2 separate regions of the Homo sapiens genome follow, and region 1 is linked to region 2. The links come from fine-mapping of genetic effects on gene expression. A gene starts in region 2. The other region holds a variant in brackets. All regions are shown on one strand. Distances are between the middles of the regions.

What was found. PIP is the estimated chance that this variant, and not a neighbour inherited with it, causes the effect.
Region 1: its variant is fine-mapped to the expression of LPL in whole blood (TOPMed, PIP above 0.99).

Annotation. Positions count from the first base shown.
Region 1 is chr8:20,068,925-20,078,612 of GRCh38, reverse strand. No RefSeq gene overlaps it. Among named protein-coding and RNA genes, the nearest start is that of SLC18A1, 110 kb to the left of the region's middle. The variant T/C (reference allele first, on the strand shown) is at 4,287.
Region 2 is chr8:19,934,781-19,944,468 of GRCh38, reverse strand. It overlaps LPL (lipoprotein lipase), which reads right to left and starts at 5,216. Exons shown (of 10, transcript NM_000237.3): 1 at 4,941-5,216. The coding sequence starts at 5,028.

The DNA.
Region 1 (9,688 bases), 130 kb before region 2:
ACAATCCCCTTATTTTACAGATAGTAATAGAAATCTATTAGAATAATGAGGAGATATTAGGCTTTTGTGCTAGGTACAGTTTAAAGTGGTCCACATTAGTAACTCATCGAATTCTCACACCAACCTTGTGAAATAGACACTGTTGTAAATCTCCTTTTCACAGATGGATAAACAGAGGCACAGAGAGTTTTAAGCAACTCACTGAAGGTCACACAGCTAGTAAGTGGTAGAGCAGGCTTTTAGAATCCAGATAGACTAATTCTGAGTTTATGCTCTTAACCGTTCAACTCTGTGGTAAAAGTGATTTGTCCAACTCAATTAGTGAGTGAGCCAAACTGGGTCTAGACCATACAAGTCCTGAGAACATCCAGTGTAGACACACAATAGGCACTGTGTGGAAAAGACAGCCATGAATGACAGAATTAGAAAGATGTATCAGGAAGGAAGGAAGGAGGGCAGAAAGGGGAAGGGAGGGAGGAAGAATCATTTTCCTTGTCCCAGGGTGTATGATCCAGCTTCCCACTGGCCTCTCGTCTATCTGCAGACCAACAGCTCTGATGCTGACATGTTGGTTTGCTGCAGGATGATTTAGACAGGAGAGTAACATCATCTGATCACTTTGGCCAAGTTTCACCAGATGGACTATGTTGTCTTCACTACCTGCCTTCTGTGTTCTCTTGTCAATGAAGGGTAAATCATCCTGGTTAACAAAACTATGCTCCTGGGTTTTTGGAATAATCATTACAAACAAGAACAATTTGTTGAGCTGTTTAAATGCATTATCTCATTTTATCATCCCAGAAAAAACTGATGTATATATTATTATTCCCATTTTGGAGATGAAAATATTGAGTCTCAGGCAGCTTAAGTAATTTGCTCAAAATTATATAACTCATTAGTAGAAGGAATGAGATTTGAAGCAGGACTATTTCATTCTAAAGCCTAGTCTTTAGTATGATGATGTATTGCTTCTGCAGAGTGTATTCTGAATCCTCTAGATAATTTCATATGGTGAAAATATTCAAGTCCTGGCCGGGTGCGGTGGCTCACACCTATAATCCCAGCAATTTGGGAGGCCGAAGTGGGCGGATCACCTGAGGTCAGCAGTTCAAGACCAGCCTAGCCAACATGGTGAAACCCCATCTTTACTAAAAATACAAAAATTAGCCGTGCCCGTAATCCCAGCTACTCGGGAGGCTGAGGCAGGAGAATCGCTTAAACCTGGGAATATATATATATATATATATATATATATATATATATATATATACTCAAGTTCTAACATCGTTATATTAACCAATTTGAGCAAATAATCTACAAACACCTGTTTTCAGATGGCAGAGAAGTGGCCTCTTTTCCATTCCCTCTCTATTCCCAGCAGGTCAGAGACTGACTTTGACCAGATCACAGTGAGGTAACTGTGTCCTTGCATAAAGAACTGACCCAGAAGCAAGCCATTTGAGAATAATTCAGTGGCACATTCTAGGCCAAGAGAAAATAACTCAAGATAAGAATATAACCCCCAAAGGGGAATAGATTTCTTGTTGGCAGAACTCTATATGCTTCCAGTTCTGCAGCAATAGCAGATTTCTCCAAGTTACTGAGTTCAGAGGATATATTTTGTTTAAACAACAACAAAGAAAGCTCAAGAGAGAGCTTGTTTTTTCTTTTGCAATAAGCTACATGTATTTTTTGAATGCCTGTTAAACATTCCGTTGTCTGGCATGGGGCTCTCCACATTTTCTTTCCCCTGTGGGGCTCTTACAACCCATCTCACTTCACCCACAGCCTTCCCTGAAATATGGCTCATTTCACTAGTAGGTCAGCAAATATGGCAAATTGGCAAATTGTCAACTCCAAATTGACCTTTCATTTCTCAATGCTGTTTGCTGGGCAACAAGCAAGGGGAATTAAAACTTCAGTCCTGGAGTCTCAAAAGGAATTGGAGCAAAAATCAAGATTGATAGCAAAGTGCTGAAACAGACATTTTATTTGGTGGAGCCATTTCAACCGAAGTGCAAAAGGCATCCTGGTAAGGAGATGAGCTTGTGTCTTTGAACAGCTTTTTCCCTTTCATACATCTGATATTTTTTTGAGTGCCTACCAATTTTCTAGACTTTATTTTTGGCTTAGGATCCAAAACATTATAATCACTGCCCTCCAGGAGCTTACATTCTGATGGGGGAGGACAAAACATAAACATAGGAAAAAGTAAATTAAATTGTGCATTAGACAGTGATGTGTTTGGGATAAAAAAAAAATAAATAGGGAAGGGTTTAGAAAATGCTAGGAGGTGAGCATTTTAAATAGTGTGTTGTCAGGGAAATCTTCACTGAGAACTTGATGTTTGAATAAAACCCAAAGGAGGGAAGGTAGCAAGCCAAGCTGATGTTCTGCAGGACAGTGTGCCAAGCAGAGAGAAGAGCCACTCACAAGGCCCTTGGGGACAGGTACTGGAGGAATGCAAAGGGGCCAGTGTGAGTGGAGTGGATGAGGCTAGCAAGAGGAGACAGATACTGCAGGGTCTTGTAGGCCATTGATAGGTCTCAGCACCCTGCTAAAACCATGACCACTGCGTCATGTGTAACCCTGACATTTGCAAAGCATTCATTTTCAGTGTTTGCTTATATCCTTGATCAAACTTGGTTCAACCCCGAGAGGAAGAGAAGCAGACCACTTCTCATTGTCTCCACTTTAGAGATAAACCAGACGCCAAGAATACTGAATAAATGACCAACTTCTCAGAGGGTGATTTGACCTCCCGTCTCTTAATTTCTAGACTGTTGCTTTTTCTACTGCATCTTCATTGTATTTCAGGCCATTTGTGCTTTGAAAATGGAGAGCTGATAAAAACGAGGAAGCTCAAGCCTTATCCTCAGCAATTATCTTGGATCATTTTGATTCAAGGGCTCTCTCATTTCTTGGTTTATTTATCTCACTATCCACAGCTACAAAGCAATGGTGCAGGGTACACACAGCCCAGCTCTACTGGGCACCATTCGTACAGACTGCAGTGTGAATTGTGCCCCTTGGTGTTGAGCCAAGTGCAGGCACTGCTGTGGTGTACTGTCTTTCCTCATCTTGACTTTGTCTCTTATTTCTAGCCTCACATTTGAATTCTCTGTAGCAGAATTTCATCTTCCCAGTTTTGAGTTTTGGCAGTCCCTAGATAGAACATGGTTTGCACCCACACTTTCGCAAATAATTGACCTAGACCCAACCCAGTCTTGAGACATCTTCTGGCATTAACTGCCTAGAAGGTATCTCAGTTGTTCCTGTTCCCTCCTGTCCCTCATGCCTAACAAGATTTGGGACAGTTTTGAAACCACTTTTGCAAAAATTTTAAAAATGTGAAAATTATGACAGTAAAAGAGATCTGATCTAACCAATCTCCATCTTGCCTTTAACTTCCAGACTGTCCTTGGCCATTCCTAGGCTTGGGTCTAGCTAACTTTGGGAGAAATTTAGTTTATCATTTAAATGATAACAGCCCTTCCCCAAAAGTAAACCATCTTTCTAAAACTAATGAAAGACTACCAGGTTAGGAGGATGAGAGGAGGCTGAATTCTGCTAAGATGTAGGCAGAATAAACTATTACCTATAAACAAGGTAATGAACCATTACCGGCCATTATTCCAGAGGTCACAAGATTTGCAAATTCTCCGATTACTCCTGTAGATAACATCGCTATTGTGGAACCTAACAAGATTGGCCTTTTGAGATGTCCTTTCAGATTTTTGCATTTCTAACTACCAGATGGCCCACCCGGACCCAGGACTCTGCTCCTGTGGCTCCTACCCAGAAGGGACTCTGTACAAGGACCACTTTCCACACCGCTGTGATTGCATCCAATCAAGCAGTACCCATTCCCTCAGCCCCCCGCCCACCAAACTATTCTTAAAAAACCCTAGCCTCTGAATTCTCAGGGAGATTGATTTGGGTAATAACTTCATCTCCCACATGGCATGGCTGGTCTTGTGTCAATTAAACTTCCTTATTGCAGTGTCACGGTTGCAATGAATTGGTTTTGTCTGGACAGTGGGCAGGAAAAACCCATGGAGCAATTACAGTTTCCTTCTATATCTAACTATCCACCCTTGAGGAAATCAGCTCATAATCTTAGGTAGTTGGTATTTATCTCTGATTCTTGTGTTTATATATTTCAAATCCTCCCAAACCTTGGGCTGCAAGTTTTTTCTGTATGCTGTCTTTGTGGGGTCTTTGGCAGTTTTTTCACAAATGACTAAGCTTGAGCCAATTTGATGAATGGAGTCTTTAGAAACGGA[T/C]TCTCGTTTGACACACAGATCTGCTAAGCTAATAAACTTTGTTATGAGCTGAGCAAATTTCCTCTTCTGGAATCTTCCCTGTGGTGACCGGCCTGTGCTGGGGAGGAAATCAGCTGCTTTCTCAAGGGCCTTTGTGTCCCCAGCCCCTGCTGCAAGTTACAGAGGGGTGACCTCTACCATGTACTTTCCCACGCCCCACCTCCTGACTCTGGGGTGTGCGAGTGAGTGTGAGAATCCTTGAAGTTACATAACAGAGAGCTCAGGCAACAGACTGCTTCTGCTTCCTCCATCACCAGGAGAGCTTACTTCTGACTTTGGATCCCAATTCTTCACTAAGGATGCCCTGTCCTTTCTCAATTAAATTTCCTTTCACTTCCTCTAACCCTTCAATCTTGGATTCCCTTTGATCACGTAGTTCTGTTAATCCATAGCCAGGAAGTTTTTGGAAGAAACAGAGGCACCCTTTATCTCTTAACATATGAAATACATACAGGATATACGCATATGAGCACATGCAGTACCAATATGGCACCATGCAAGGACAGCCATCAGAGGATATCCCCACAATGCAACAGCAAATTTTCTTGCTTTCTTATTTACTTATTTATTAATTTTTATTTTTTGAGATGGCATCTCACTCTGTCACCCAGGCTGGAGTGCAGTGGCCCGATTTCGGCTCACTGCAACCTCCACCTCCCGGGTTCAAGTGATTCTTCCGCCTCATCCTCCCGAGTAGCTGGGACTATAGGCGCGCATGCTAATTTTTGTATTTTTAGTAGAGACTGGTTTTCACCATATTGGCCAGGCTGGTCTCGAACTCCTGACCTCGTGATCCACCTGCCTTGGCCTCCCAAAGTGCTGGGATTACAGGCGTGAGCCACCGCACCCGGCGTACCAAACCAATAAAAGAAAAAAAACCGCTCACAAAGCAGGCCACACTGACCCTCCCAATAGTGACGCAAGATAGAATTTCTGGGAGGGGTGTTATAAGAAATTAAGAACTATATATTTGATTTCTGCCCCTGGTTCCTGGTACAAGAGCGTCTAAGAACCCCTAGGAGCTCCCTGAGTGATGGGAGTGGGAGGAGCTTCTTTTGTCGTTCCTAACAAGTTGGGGACTGGTTGCCAGAGGAATCAAATTCAGCCCCATCACCCGCCCCAAACCTAAGGAAGGGGAGAGAGGCTGGGGATTGAGTTAATCACCAATGGCCAATGATTTAATCAATTGTGTTTATGTAATAAAACCTCCATAAAAACCCCTAAATAATGGGGTTTGGAGAGCTTCTGGACTGGTGAACACGTGGAGGTGCCTAGAGGGTGGTGCTCCTGGAGAGGGCATGGAAGCTCTCTGCCCCTTCCCCATACATTGTCCTGGGCGTCTGATACGGTTTGGCTGTTTCCCCACCAAAATCTCAACTTAAATTGTATCTCCCAGAATTCCCATGAATTGTGGGAGGGGCCCAGGGGGAGGTAATTGAATCATGGGGTCAGTCTTTCTCGTGCGTGCTATTCTCGTGATAGTGAATAAGTCTCACGAGATCTGATGGTTTTATCAGGGGCTTCCGCTTTTGCTTCATTCTCATTTTCTTTTGCCTCCGCCACGTGAGAAGTGCCTTTCGCCTCCTGCCATGATTCTGAGGCCTCCCCAGCCATGTGGAACTGTAAGTCAAATTAAATCTCCTTTTCTTTCCCATCTCGGGTGTGTCTTTATCAGCAGCGTAAAAACGGACAAATACAGCCTCTCTTCCATACGCTGTTCCTGAGTCGTGTCTTTTATAATAAACGAGTAGACTGTTTTCCTGGATTCTGTGAGGCAGTCGAGCAAAATATTAAATCCAAGCATGGGGTCGTGGGGACCCCTTATTTGTAGCCAGTTGGCCAGAAGTTTGGAGGTCCAGATTTACTACTGGCATCTGAAGTGGGGGGCTTGTGTGTGGGACTGAGCCCTTCACTAGTGGGGTGTGATCTAACTCCTGGTGGTTAGTTTCGGAATTGAGTTGAATTACTGGACACCTAGTTGATGTCTGGAGAGTCACAGTGTTGGTGATTGGTGTGGAAAAAAAACAAAACAAAACAAAAAAACCTCCCGCATTAGGTGTCACAGGTGTTGCGAGTATAAAAACAGTTTTTTCCTCAGGTGGGCAACAATCGCTTTCTTGCTTCTGGGGCAGGAGGATGTAAAGGAGGGAGATGAGGCAGTGGGGCACTGAGTGAATCTGGCCTGGGGTTGGTTAAGGCTGTTTCAGGAGAACATGTGGAAACTTACATCAGAATCACACTGAATAATTCTTAAAGTCATATATAGCTGCTGCTTCTTATTCATGGTAGTTATGGTCTGTAAAGTCGCTGTAACACTAAATTAGTGAATACTGAGTCATTGCTCCTAATGGAAATACAGGCACCTGCAAGCCTCTGGTTACAGTATTTTCCTCCAGTGGTCAATACATAACCTTGTTTGACGTGTATCACTGTTTGAAGACACTTTATTTAACATTGTTGATTCATTGACACTGAACTCAAGGCCAACAGCACTATCATTCCTAACTGAGCAAAAGCTTATCTGACACATGTATTTCTCTATAACATATCACAGCCTTCTTGCACTTAGGAACACTAGGCCAGCAGTGTTTGGCACCAGGGACTGGTTTCATGGAAGACTATTTTTTCATGGACTTGAGTGGGGATAGTTTCAGGATGATGCAAGCCCATTACATTTATTGTGTACTTTATTTCTATTATTACATTGTAATATATAATGAAATAATTATACAACTCATGGTAATGTAGAATCAGGGGAAGCCCTGAGCTTGTTTGCCTGCAACTAGACAGTCCCTTCTGGGGATGATGGGAGACAGTCACGGATCATCAGGCATTAGATTCTCGTAAGGAGTGTGCAACCTAGACCCCTTACACGCACAGTTCACAGTAGGGTTTGTGCTTCTATGAGAATCTAATACCACCAGTGATCTGATAGGAGGCAGAACTCAGGCAGTAATGCAAGCAATGGGGAGCAGCTGTAAATACAGATGAAGCTTTGCTCACACACTGCTAACCTCCTGCTATGGGGCCCAGTTCCTAAAAGTCCACAGAACAGTACCAGGCCCAGGAGTTGGAGACCCCTGCACTAGACAAAACTTCAGCAGCTACACTTGCGGGCCATTTTAAATAGCAAAATTACCAACACAAAGCACGCACAAAACCCATGATACAATGAAAAGGACACTCGTTTACATCATGAGAGCTGAAACAGAAAGGCAGAGTAATCATGTCAGTATTTCAAATGTCTTGCTACTCTATGGATGTGCACAAACACTGCAGAAGTGGCATGTGTATTGATTCTGAGGTTAGAAATACATTTTAGGGAGCAGGCAAATTCACAAATATGGAATCCATGAATCCGTGTCTCAGTCAATGTACGGTCATGTGCTGCATAATGACGTTTTGGTCAATGACAGACCACATATACGATGGTGGTCCCATAAGATTATAATGGAGCTGAAAATTTTCTATTTCCTAGTGATATTGTAGCTGTCATAACAAATGTCATAGTGCAATGCATTACTCCCATGTTTGTGGTGACACTGGTGTAAACAAACCTACTTCACTGCCAGTTATGTAAAAGTATAGCACATACAATTATGTATATTACATCATAATACTTGATAGTGATAAAATGACCAAGTTACTGGTTTATGTGTTTACCATACTATACATTGTAGCATCATTTTAGAGTGTACTTCTACTTATTAAAAAAAAAAGCTAATTGTAAAACAGCCTCACATAGGTCCTTTAGAGAGTATTCCAGAATAAGACGTTGTTATCCTACGAGATGACAGCTCTGTGATTGTTACTGTCCCTGAAGACCTTCCAGTGGAACAGGAGTGGAGGGGGAGGACAATGATATGGATCATCCTGACCCTGTGTAGGCCTAGGCTAATGTGTCTGTTTGTGCTTTAGTTTTTAACAAAAAAGTTTTAAAAAGTAAAAACTAAAATAAAAAATTTAAAAATAGAGAAAAGCTTATAGAATAAGGATATAAAGAAATAAAATATTTTTGTACAGCTGTACAGTGGGTTTGTGTTTTAAGCTAAGTGTTATTACAAAAGAATAAAAAAGTTTAAAAAGTTTTTAAAGTTTGTGAAGTAAAAATGTTACGGTAAGCGAAGGTTAATTTAATATTGGAGAAAGAATTTTTTTAAAAATTTACTGTAGCCTAAGTGTACGCTATTTACAAAGCCTACAGTGTTGGACAGTAATGTCCGAGGCCTTCACATTCACTCACTCAGGGCAGCTTCTAGTCCTGCAAGTTCTTTTCATGGTAAGTGAACTATACAGGTGTAGCATTTTTTATCTTTTGTACTGTATTTTTACTGTACCTTTAATTTTTTAATTTTTTAATTTTTCCATAAGTTATTGGGGGACAGATGGTATTTGGTTACATGAGTAAGTTCTTTAGTGGTGATCTGTGAGATTTTGGTGCACCCATCACCCAAGCAGTATACACTGCACCATATTTGTAGTCTTCCATCCCTCACCCCTGCAAGTCTCCAAAGTCCGTTGCACCATTCTTATGCCTTTGTGTCCTCACAGCTTAGCTCCCACACATCAATGAGAACATAAGATACTTGGTTTTCCATTTCTGAGTTACTTCACTTAGAATAATAGTCTCCGATCTCATCCAGGTCGCTGCAAATGTTGTTAATTCATTCCTTTTTATGGCTGTGAAGTATTCCATCGTGTATATATATATATACCACAGTTTCTTTATCCACTCGTTGATTGATGGTCATTTGGCTTGGTTCCACGATTTGCAATTGTGAGTTGTGCTGCTATAAACATGCGTGTGGAAGTATCTTTTTCAAATAATTACTTCTTTTCCTCTGGGTAGATACCCAGTAGTGGGATTGCTGGATCAAATGGTAGTTCTATTTTTAGTTCTTTAAGGAATCTCCACACAGTTTTCCATAGTGGCTGTACTAGTTTATATTCCCGCCAGCAGTATAGAAGTGTTCCCTGTTCAGCACATCCACACCAATATCTGGTTTTTGATTTTTTGATTATGGCCATTCTTGCAGGAGTGAGGTGGTATTGCACTGTGGTTTTGATTTGCATTTCTCTGATGATGAGTGATGCTGAGCATTTTTTCATATGTTTGTTGGCCATTTGTATATCTTCTTTTGAGAATTGTCTATTCATGTCCTTAACCCGCTTTTTGATGGGATGGTTTGTTTTTTTTTCTTACTGATTTGTTTGAGTTCGTTGAAGATTCTGGATATCAGTCCTTTGTTGGATGTATAGATTGTGAAGATTTTCTCCCACTCTGCATTGTCTGTTTACTTTGCTGACTGTTCCTTTTGCTGTGTAAAAGCTCTTTAGTTCAATTAGGTCCCAGCTATTTATGT
Region 2 (9,688 bases):
CCTTTCTCTCTCTCTCCCCCCTTTTCTCTCACTCCTACAGGGCTTCCTCAGTAATTCATTTGCTCTCTGAGACTGATAGTCATAGTTATCGACTCAGGCAGTGTCTGTAGGATATCGAAGAACAAAGTGAATTACTGATGTGGTCGATTTGGTGAAGAAAAACATCAATATCATGATCAGACTGAATTGATTGGTCTGTTCAGATATTCTAACGTAAGTAATGCTCTTGACTTCTCTAACATGCAGCTTTACTTTATTTCATTTTATTTTATTATTATTTTTTGAAACGGAGTCTTGCTCTGTCACCCAGGCTGGAGTGCAGTGGCACGATCGTGACTCACTGCAACCTATGCCTCCTGGGTTCAAGCCATTCTCTGCCTCAGCCTCCCGAGTAGCCGGGATTACAGGTGCCTGCCACCACGCCTGGCTAATTTTTGTATTTTTAGTAGAGATGGGGTTTCACCATCCTGGCCACGCTGGTCTTGAACTCCCGACCTCATGATCCACCCGCCTCGGCCTCCCAAAATGCTGGGATTACAGGAGTGAGCCACTGTGCCAGCCTACTTTTTATTTTTATAAAAGTTGTTTTATTAATGGAATAGGAAAAATAAATCCTGTATGAATCATCTGAATTTTACCCTGAATTTTCTCCAATATTAGGGCTAACCTTCCACACTACTGAAAAAGAGGGGTTAAAAAATAGGTTCAGAGATGTGTATTAAAATTGCCCCACTGAATGAGACCATCAAGTGTGAATAAGCCATCATTATTTAAGGAGATCTTGTGGACTGGTTAATGAAATAATTTGGTTGAGTGTCATCACATAGGCATATTTCAGTCAAGATTTTTTAAGTGAAATACAAAATACTTACCTGGTTAATCTGAGACTACTTTCTTCTTGTTGCTGAGGATGGCAAATGGAAACATCCAGTTGTCTCAAACTAACACAATGAAAGTCCATGATTACTTTGCCAACAATTGTTTTATTGGAGGGAGGGCTGAATAAACATGGGGACGCTATTCTTTTTAGTTAAAATGTAAGTGCTAACTCCTATACTGTTTTTCACCGTAATTAATTCTGCAGCCAATTTTTTTTCAAAGGTACATTATTGATGTCATGATAGCTGTATCTTGAATGAAGGGCTGTTGAGGATCTCTAAGTGCAGATCCATTTACCTACATTCACCACCATCCCTCCGAAAGCATCTGACTTTTCATGCTACTTAAAAGCTTCTCTAAACTTTGTACTACACTCAAATTAATCCAAGCCAGAATGGTATTACCCCTACCTGACTGCATAGAAAGAGACTTCAACATTTACGAAAATACAGATGAGCGCACACACCAAAGTGGGTTGAGTGCTGTGAGCAAGGTGGCTGGATTAGACACAGTGTGGCCACGCCAACTGGGTCATCTTTGTTCTATTCTACTGTCAAATAATGGTGGGAGACGTTTTCGTTTATTCATTCAAACAGTCAAAATCACCACACTACTTAGATAGCATTTGATCATTCTGAGAGCACAGACTGGGAAGAGCAAAAGGAATGAATTGGCACAAGTTTAATAGGCTCACTTCCGGCAGAACTTACATATATATATAGCACCTAAGATAATCCATTCCTTCCTTCCTAGTAGATACCTGTTGTTGAGTACGCAAATGGTGTCAGTGCACACAGACAATCTTAAAATGGCCACAAGACAGCAAACTGCAGTCACGCAGTCTAGTGAACAGACATCGTTCAGAGTAAATTTCAAACTCTTAGCCTCTGAGTAAGTTGGAACCCTATCCTATTAGTCCTTCAGAAACTATTGGAGCCTTCAACTTTTGCAAAGACAGAATGTGACAAAAGCACTGTGACAAGAATTTTACTCCCAGGTTAGAAAGTCTCTGTTGATAAAAGGTATTTAGTTCACTGTGGTGACAAACTCATTTAATGGATAGATGATCCCAAAGCTTTACACTGATAAGTGTTTTTGTTGTTTTTATTGCCATAAAAGTTGGAATTTACCTTATTAGTAAATCCAAATGGTCTCTTCATCCAGACCTTAAAAAATCATGATACTCATGTCTTGAATACTTTCCTTACACTTTGTGATCCAAAATCATCACCAACCATCATTTTGATGGCTGGAACATCTTCATATTTAAGTCAATGCAGTCTTTGTGGTGGTCACGGAAGAAACTAGCTGCAAAATATTGTAAGTTGCAAGGCATTTTCTTGAACAATCTGGCATAAGGCAGTAAACTCTATGGCCCAATTTTTCCTCCATAATAAAGCAAGAACAGAAAGCTGAGTTAAAAATAAGCTGCTGAAAGAAAGCGAAAATTTTCCATCGCCGCTCTTCCCCCGTACCTGACTCCCACCTTTCAATACAGCTATTAATCAATCACTCCCTCGCTGAGCTCTCCTTCAGTGACATCTGCTATTTTGCTCTCCTTTGCCATCATGTTCAACTCAGAAGACAGCCTGGAAATTCACGATGGCCAGGCAAGTGGAACTTCAGCTGCTAAGCACTGACCATACTCTCCCTCTCCTAGCTCTTCACGTTTCCTAATTGGGGCCATGCAGAGATGGTGGTGGCTCCCAGGACGAAGTGCCTGAGGACAGTGCCTCTTGTCCTCATATTCTTGTTAGAAAGAATCCAGAATGAATAAGTAAACTCAAGAGCCCAGAGGAGGTGATCCCTGTCTTTCTACCACGGTGACATCTTTCTCTCCCTGAAATTCTTACCTTCCTAGATGAATGCATCTGGAGGAGAAAGAGGGAGAAAGTTGCTGTGATGGGAGAGGCATGATATATTGGGTGAGTAGAGTGAAAGTGGAGGGGATGGGAGGGCATCGTTTCCAGTCTACTTGGAAATAATCCTTCCTTAATATATTTACAGCTAGGAAAAGCATGTGTTGGCTACAACTCAATTAAACTAATTAATCACATAAGTGTCCACTTAAAGAGGCAAGAGTTACACCAGGCTCAGAGAACATTGGCCTCATCCAAACTCATTGCAGAGTTGAGGAACCTAAACCCAGAGAGGTGACACTGACTCCCAAGAATTTAGGATCTTGAACCTGTAAGGGAGCCTAGGAAAAACTTGAATGTGATGACATATTTCGGTGCTTGTTTTGCAATGAAAATGACGTTATTCTATGGTGTGCTTTCTGAAATAAGAATTTGGAGTTGGCTCCTACCATCTTCTTGTCAGCATTAAGCAGTACGAAGGGAAACATACGAAACATACCCCACCTAAGATGTTGAAGACTTTCTCATCAACTCTCCAGTGTTTTCAAACTGATCCAATAGAAAAGATACTTTTTTTCTTATCCAATTTTGCTTTGATGGAATCTATACTTAGTGTTTGTTTTGTTTTGTTTTAATTTTATGAGACAGGGTCTCACTGTCACCCAGGATGAAGTGCAGTGGGGCAATCACAGCTCACTGCAGTCTACTGAAACTCCCTGGCTCAAGTGATCTCTCAGCCTGCTGACTATCTGGGACCACAGGCACAGGCCACCACGCCCGGCTAATTTTTGTATTTTTTTTTTATAGAGACGGTGTCTCCCTATGTTGCCCAGGCTGATTTCGAACTTCTGGGCTCAAGCTGTCTTCCGGCCTCGGCCTCCCGAAGTGCTGGGACTACATGGGTGAGCCACTGCTCCCTGCCAACTTTTTGTTTTTTAACCTAACAAAAATGTTTCACAAATTAATGCCAAAATAAAACAAACGTTTAGCGGCCATCAAAGCTATGGAGAGACTCTATTATAACTTGAACCGCTGGGGACGTGCCGCCTGAGAGCACATCCAAGCGACACCGCCCTAATTGCAATTCCAGCATGGAAGAAAAAAGGAAATGTTGTCCCGTGTTATGAATGGCTTCAGCTGCTCTCTATGCTGCTGTTGCATGTTTACTGAATCGAGGTTCGAATTAAGCAGGCTGCCTCCATTGCGGACAGGTCTGAGACATTCTCATTTGGCCCCGAACGCCTGGACCCCAGCGAGCGGGCGGTTCCCTGGCGGCGGTGACCACCGTTGTGCTCGCTGCCTCCACGCGGCGCCCGTCAACCCCACGTGCTCGCAGCCGCGCGGCGGGGCCGGGCGCCCGGAGCTGACCTCAGCCCCCAGGACAGAAAGGGTGGCCAAACGCAGACCTGGCAACCCCCCGAGTCGGCGACCACAGATTGCTGGTGGCTGCGCCACGGTTTCGGGAGGGTCAGCCCCTCGCTGGGTTCTCAGGGCACTAAGAAAAGAGGGGCATGCGAGCCTGGAAGCTGGAGAGAGTCCGGGGCTCCCCAGAGCGGGTGGGACGCCGCGTCCCCAGGACTCCGCGCCACGCGTACTTTCTCCACCCCGACACCCACTGCCACTCCCACAGCGGAGCGAGGGGCCCCGCCGAGGGCGAGCGTACCCCGTGCGGCTGAGATGCCCGGAACGCCTCCCCGCGCCCCGGCTTCCCCAGAAGGGGCCACAGTCGGCCCGCGAGTCCCCGGGCGGGGGCTGAGCCGCAGTGCCAACCAAGGCGAGGTCACCTTGGCCCGCGCGCCTTTCATTCCAGGGCCCCTCCGGCAGAGAGGTGACTGCAGGTCACCGCCAGCCGGGCCCTTACTCCCCGCCTCCGCCGTCCCGGCCCCCACACCCCGGAACCTCCCCGGCGGAGCCTGCGAGCCCGGGAACGCGGTCCCAGCCAGAGTGGAAGGGATAGCGCGGGAACCCGGCAGAGAGAAAAAGCGGGAACTGGGCGCCGCCGCTTCACGATCGGGAGGAGATTCCCTCCCGGCCCCTCCTGGATCCCACTCCGGGGACCGTTTCGGGGCTAGAGCCCAGGCTGGGAGAGTCCCTGGGCGCATCCACCGCCCCTTCCAACTTCCTTCTTCTCATCCTCAGTTCGGGTGGCAGTGGCCACCCGCCGGGTCTGCAGGTGGAGGGGAGTTTGCGCGCAAAACTTACGGTCGGCGGCGGCCACCCCTCCGCGGGAGGCGGTCAGACTCTGGAGCCACACGGCCAGAGTCAGCACGAGCAGGGCTTTGCTCTCCATCTCGGGGCGCGTCCCTCTGGAGGAGCTGCAAGGCGCGGACCGACTGATGAGCCGGCTGAGCCGGAGGCTGGAGAGGGCTGGAGCCGCGGTTTGGCGCTGAGCAAGTCGCCCTTTAAAGGGGATGGCAGGGCAGCTAGAAGTGGGCAGCTTTCCCTTGAGGAGGAGGAAGAGGGGGAATCGAGTCTGACACTGTTTTCACGCCAAGGCTGCTTATGTGACTGGAAATATGCAAATAAACCTCATCACCTATTGGCTATAAAATCATAAGTTGGGGGGAGGGACCTAAATTCACTTCTAAACGTTTGAGCAAACAGTAATGAGGATCAACCCTGCCAACGAGAAGAGGGGGAAAGGGCAGACGGAAAAATTTGCTTTGTTAGGCTCCTGTTCGCTTAGCTTAAGGGGTTCCACTCTACCCGGGGGCCCCCTGTCTAAGCACCAAACACAGGTTTACATCGATTCACGTTAAATACTCAACAATCACCTGTTTTCCAAGGAGGGAAAGTTTAGCTGTTAAATTACATTTGATCGGCACTTTAATACACCTCTCTTTTGACGAATCCTGTTTGTCACTTGCAGTCCTCCCTCACTCACCCCGCACCCCATCCCCACCCCCGCAAAGTCAATGTAGGGATAGAGGGACACACATTGCGTCCCAGCTTGTGCTTGTACAATCTGGTGTTTTAACATTGGCAAGATGGATCAGCTTATGTGATGGAGAAAAGCCTACTTGCTCTAACTAGTTTCTAATTTTTGTCTCATGCAAATTATTCTCAATCCTCAAACTCATCAAGGAATGCAAGGATAATATTTTATGTTCAGAGGCAGAACATCGAGGTCAAATAATCTAAAGCCGTATTGAGTTATGATAAGTGAAAGAAGATAGTCGCAAAAGACACATATTGTATGATTCCATTTAAAGTGTCCACAAATAGACAAATCCATAGAGACCAAAAGTAGATCAGTGCTTGCCTGGGGCTGGGTAATTAATAGGGGAAGGGAAGAATAGAGATTTGGGGGTAGTTGATGACAATGTTCTAGATTACATTATGCTGATGCTGCACAACTCTGTAAATATACTAAAAGCAACAGAATTATGCACTTTCAATGGGAGAATTATATAGTGTGTAAATTATAGGTCAGTAAAGCTATTTTTAAATGGATAAGAGGCATGCACATAAAATAAGAAAAAAATAACATTAGATACTATGCTTTTCTGCCAAAATGCTTGGAATACTTTTAAATATCTTTTTAAATATAAGGGATTTACATTAGCCAGGAAGGACAATGAAGTGTATCCCCAACCCCCTCTCAGTTTATGGCTGAGAAACTGGCTCATCAAATCAGAACCTCCAATCTACTATATTTATGGTCTGAATATTTTTAATGTCCCCTTTTATTCATCCCACCCTCCGTCACACACACACAAACATACAATGCACAATTGTAGGTTAGAACAATGAAATGCTTTTTAAAAAACTGGGCTCACTTTTTAAGTTTTTCTCAAAAAATGAAATAAAAGTTGATAATACCCAAATATTTCAAAGGTCTCTATTCTGCATAACAATTCTATCTTTAAGTTGATGCATTCCGTGCCACAACACAACACACCGTCTTGTATTGCAATTATTACACAATATACTGTGCACGTTCACTCTAACCTACAAAGTATGTAGAGAATCTTGAAACCTGCCAAAAATTAAACTTCGCAGAACTTTAGAAGTGGCAGAACAGACCATGCAAGGGATGAATAACTATGATATGGCCGTCCTCCAAAAATCATGTAGTAAACTCTAATTTTAAAAAATGACAGAAGATGAATACAATTGCATTGGATGTGTTCATGGTGTGAATGGCATATAAACAGACGTGCAGAACTGCCTGCTATCTTATATAGAATACTCCTGCAGCCTATTTTCATGCATAAATGTCCTTTGATAAGACAACCAAATCAAACTGCACTTCTGTGCCTTTCAGAAAACTGCAAGGAGATTTTATATAATTGCTAAGGGAAAGTCTGATACTTATAGCGTATTTTTAAAATGATTTCCCAGGCTAACCAGATAACAAAATTAAAGCACTCAAGAGTTGGAGGATATGTAATATTTAAATATGAATCCAGTTTGGAGTGAACTGTGCCATTAGCACGTCCAATAGAGTTGCTGAGATTTCCAGGAAGACTTAATTTACAGCAGCTTAGCCTGGTTAAAAAAAAAAAAAAAGCAAGACAGGTTGGCTCCTCTCCCAGGGCCAGCGCGGAGCAGGTGGGTGTGGCGGCAACGTTCTCTCCTGATTGGCTGCACTGGGAGCCATCAGGTGCCCGCCTTCTAACGCAGAAACTCACATGATCTCTAGGTCAGGATTGCATGTGCATTAGTGAAGCGACTCATCCAAACTTTGGCGAGGTTACTCGGCCTTCAGTAGCTCAAGGCTTGACTTTTTCCATAATTGGCATTTCCTTTGTAACAAACTAAGTTTTAGGTGAGAAGAAGCTAACAGTACCCCTTTAGCAGGACACTTGCCACTGGGACACATTTAAAATTACCTAAGTAAAAACTTGAATGTGCATATCTAATGAAACAACTGGAAATTCTGGATGTAGGGAAGCATTATTTAGCTGGCCAGCCAGCTAGCTAGCTAGCTTGCTTATTTTGATTGAAGGCCTGCTAATTGCACTGGGCACTTTTCATCTTCTACTGTGTTTAATCATTACAAAAGCACTCCAAACTCAATAATATTCCCCTTCTACAGATGAGGGAAGATGAAGCTCAGGGAAGATTAAATAACAGCAACCACAAATCATAAGATGTTTTTTCTTTGGCGATCCTAGCCGAGAAGCAAATATGTATTTGATGTGCTATATTTTAATGTTGCAGCAATTGCAAACAGGAATAGGCTGGGAATCAGATTTTTTTTGTACACACATATTTTAATGTAGATTTTTATTTTGTGGCTTTCTTACTAAAGTAAAATACAATGAAATGTGTAAGTAGGCTCTAAAGAACATCAGTACTGAGTCGGATCTTGTCCTTATAAAAAGTATAATTAATGTAAGAAAACATACTAATACAAATAAAATGTATAAATACAAAGTCATAATTATTTAAAAATATTGTAAAATCTATTGAATTTTTAAAACATTTTATTATTATTATAGTTTGAGTTTTAGGGTAAATGTGCACAACGTGCAGGTTTGTTACATATGTATACCTGTGCCATGTTGGTGTGCTGCACCTATTAACTTGTCATTTACATTAGGTATATCTCCTAATGCTATCCCTCCCCCTCCCCCCACCCCACAACAGTCCCCAGTGTGTGATGTTCCCCTTCCTGTGTCCATGTGTTTGCATTGTTCAATTCCCACCTATGAGTGAGAACATGTGGTGTTTGGTTTTTTGTCCTTGTGATAGTTTGCTGAGAATGATGTTTTCCAGTTTCATCCATGTCCCTACAAAGGACATGAACTCATCATTTTTTATGGCTGCATAGTATTCCATGGTGTATATGTGCCACATTTTCTTAATCCAGTCTATCGTTGTTGGACATTTGGGTTGGTTCCAAGTCTTTGCTATTGTGAATAGTGCCACAATAAACATACATGTGCATGTGTCTTTATAGCAGCATGATTTATAATCCTTCGGGTATATACCCAGTAATGGGACGGCTGGGTCAAATGGTATTTCTAGTTCTAGATCCCTGAGGAATCACCACACTGACTTCCACAATGGTTGAACTAGTTTACAGTCCCACCAACAGTGTAAAAGTGTTCCTATCTCTCCACATCCTCTCCAGCACCTGTTGTTTCCTGAGTTTTTAATGATCGCCATTCTAACTGGTGTGAGATGGTATCTCATTGTGGTTTTGATTTGCATTTCTCTGATGGCCAGTGAGCATTTTTTCATGTGTCTTTTGGCTGCATAAATGTCTTCTTTTGATAAGTGTCTGTTCATATCCTTCGCCCACTTTTTGATGGGTTTGTTTGTTTTTTTCTTGTAAATTTGTTTGAGTTCATTGTAGATTCTGGATATTAGCCCTTTGTCAGATGAGTAGGTTGCGAAAATTTTCTCCCATTCTGTAGGTTGCCTGTTCACTCTGATGGTAGTTTCTTTTGCTGTGCAGAAGCTCTTTAGTTTAATTAGATACCATTTGTCAATTTTGGCTTCTGTTGCCATTGCTTTTGGTGTTTTAGTCATGAAGTCCTTGACCATGCCTATGTCCTGAATGGTATTGCCTAGGTTTTCTTCTAGGGTTTTTATGCAGTTAGATCTAACATTTAAGTCTTTAATCCATCTTAAATTAATTTTTGTATAAGGTGTAAGGAAGGGATCCAGTTTCAGCTTTTTACATATGGCTAGCCAGTTTTCCCAGCACCATTTATTAAATAGGGAATACTTTCCCCATTTCTTGTTTTTGTCAGGTTTGTCAAAGATCAGATAGTTGTAGATATAGGACATTATTTCTGAGGCCTCTGTTCTGTTCCATTGATCTATATCTCTGTTTTGGTACCACTACCATGCTGTTTTGGTGACTGTAGCCTTGTAGTATAGTTTGAAGTCAGGTAGCGTGATGCCTCCAGCTTTGTTCTTTTGGCTTAGGATTGACTTGGCGATGCGGTCTCTTTTTTGGTTCCATATGAACTTTAAAGTAGTTTTTTCCAATT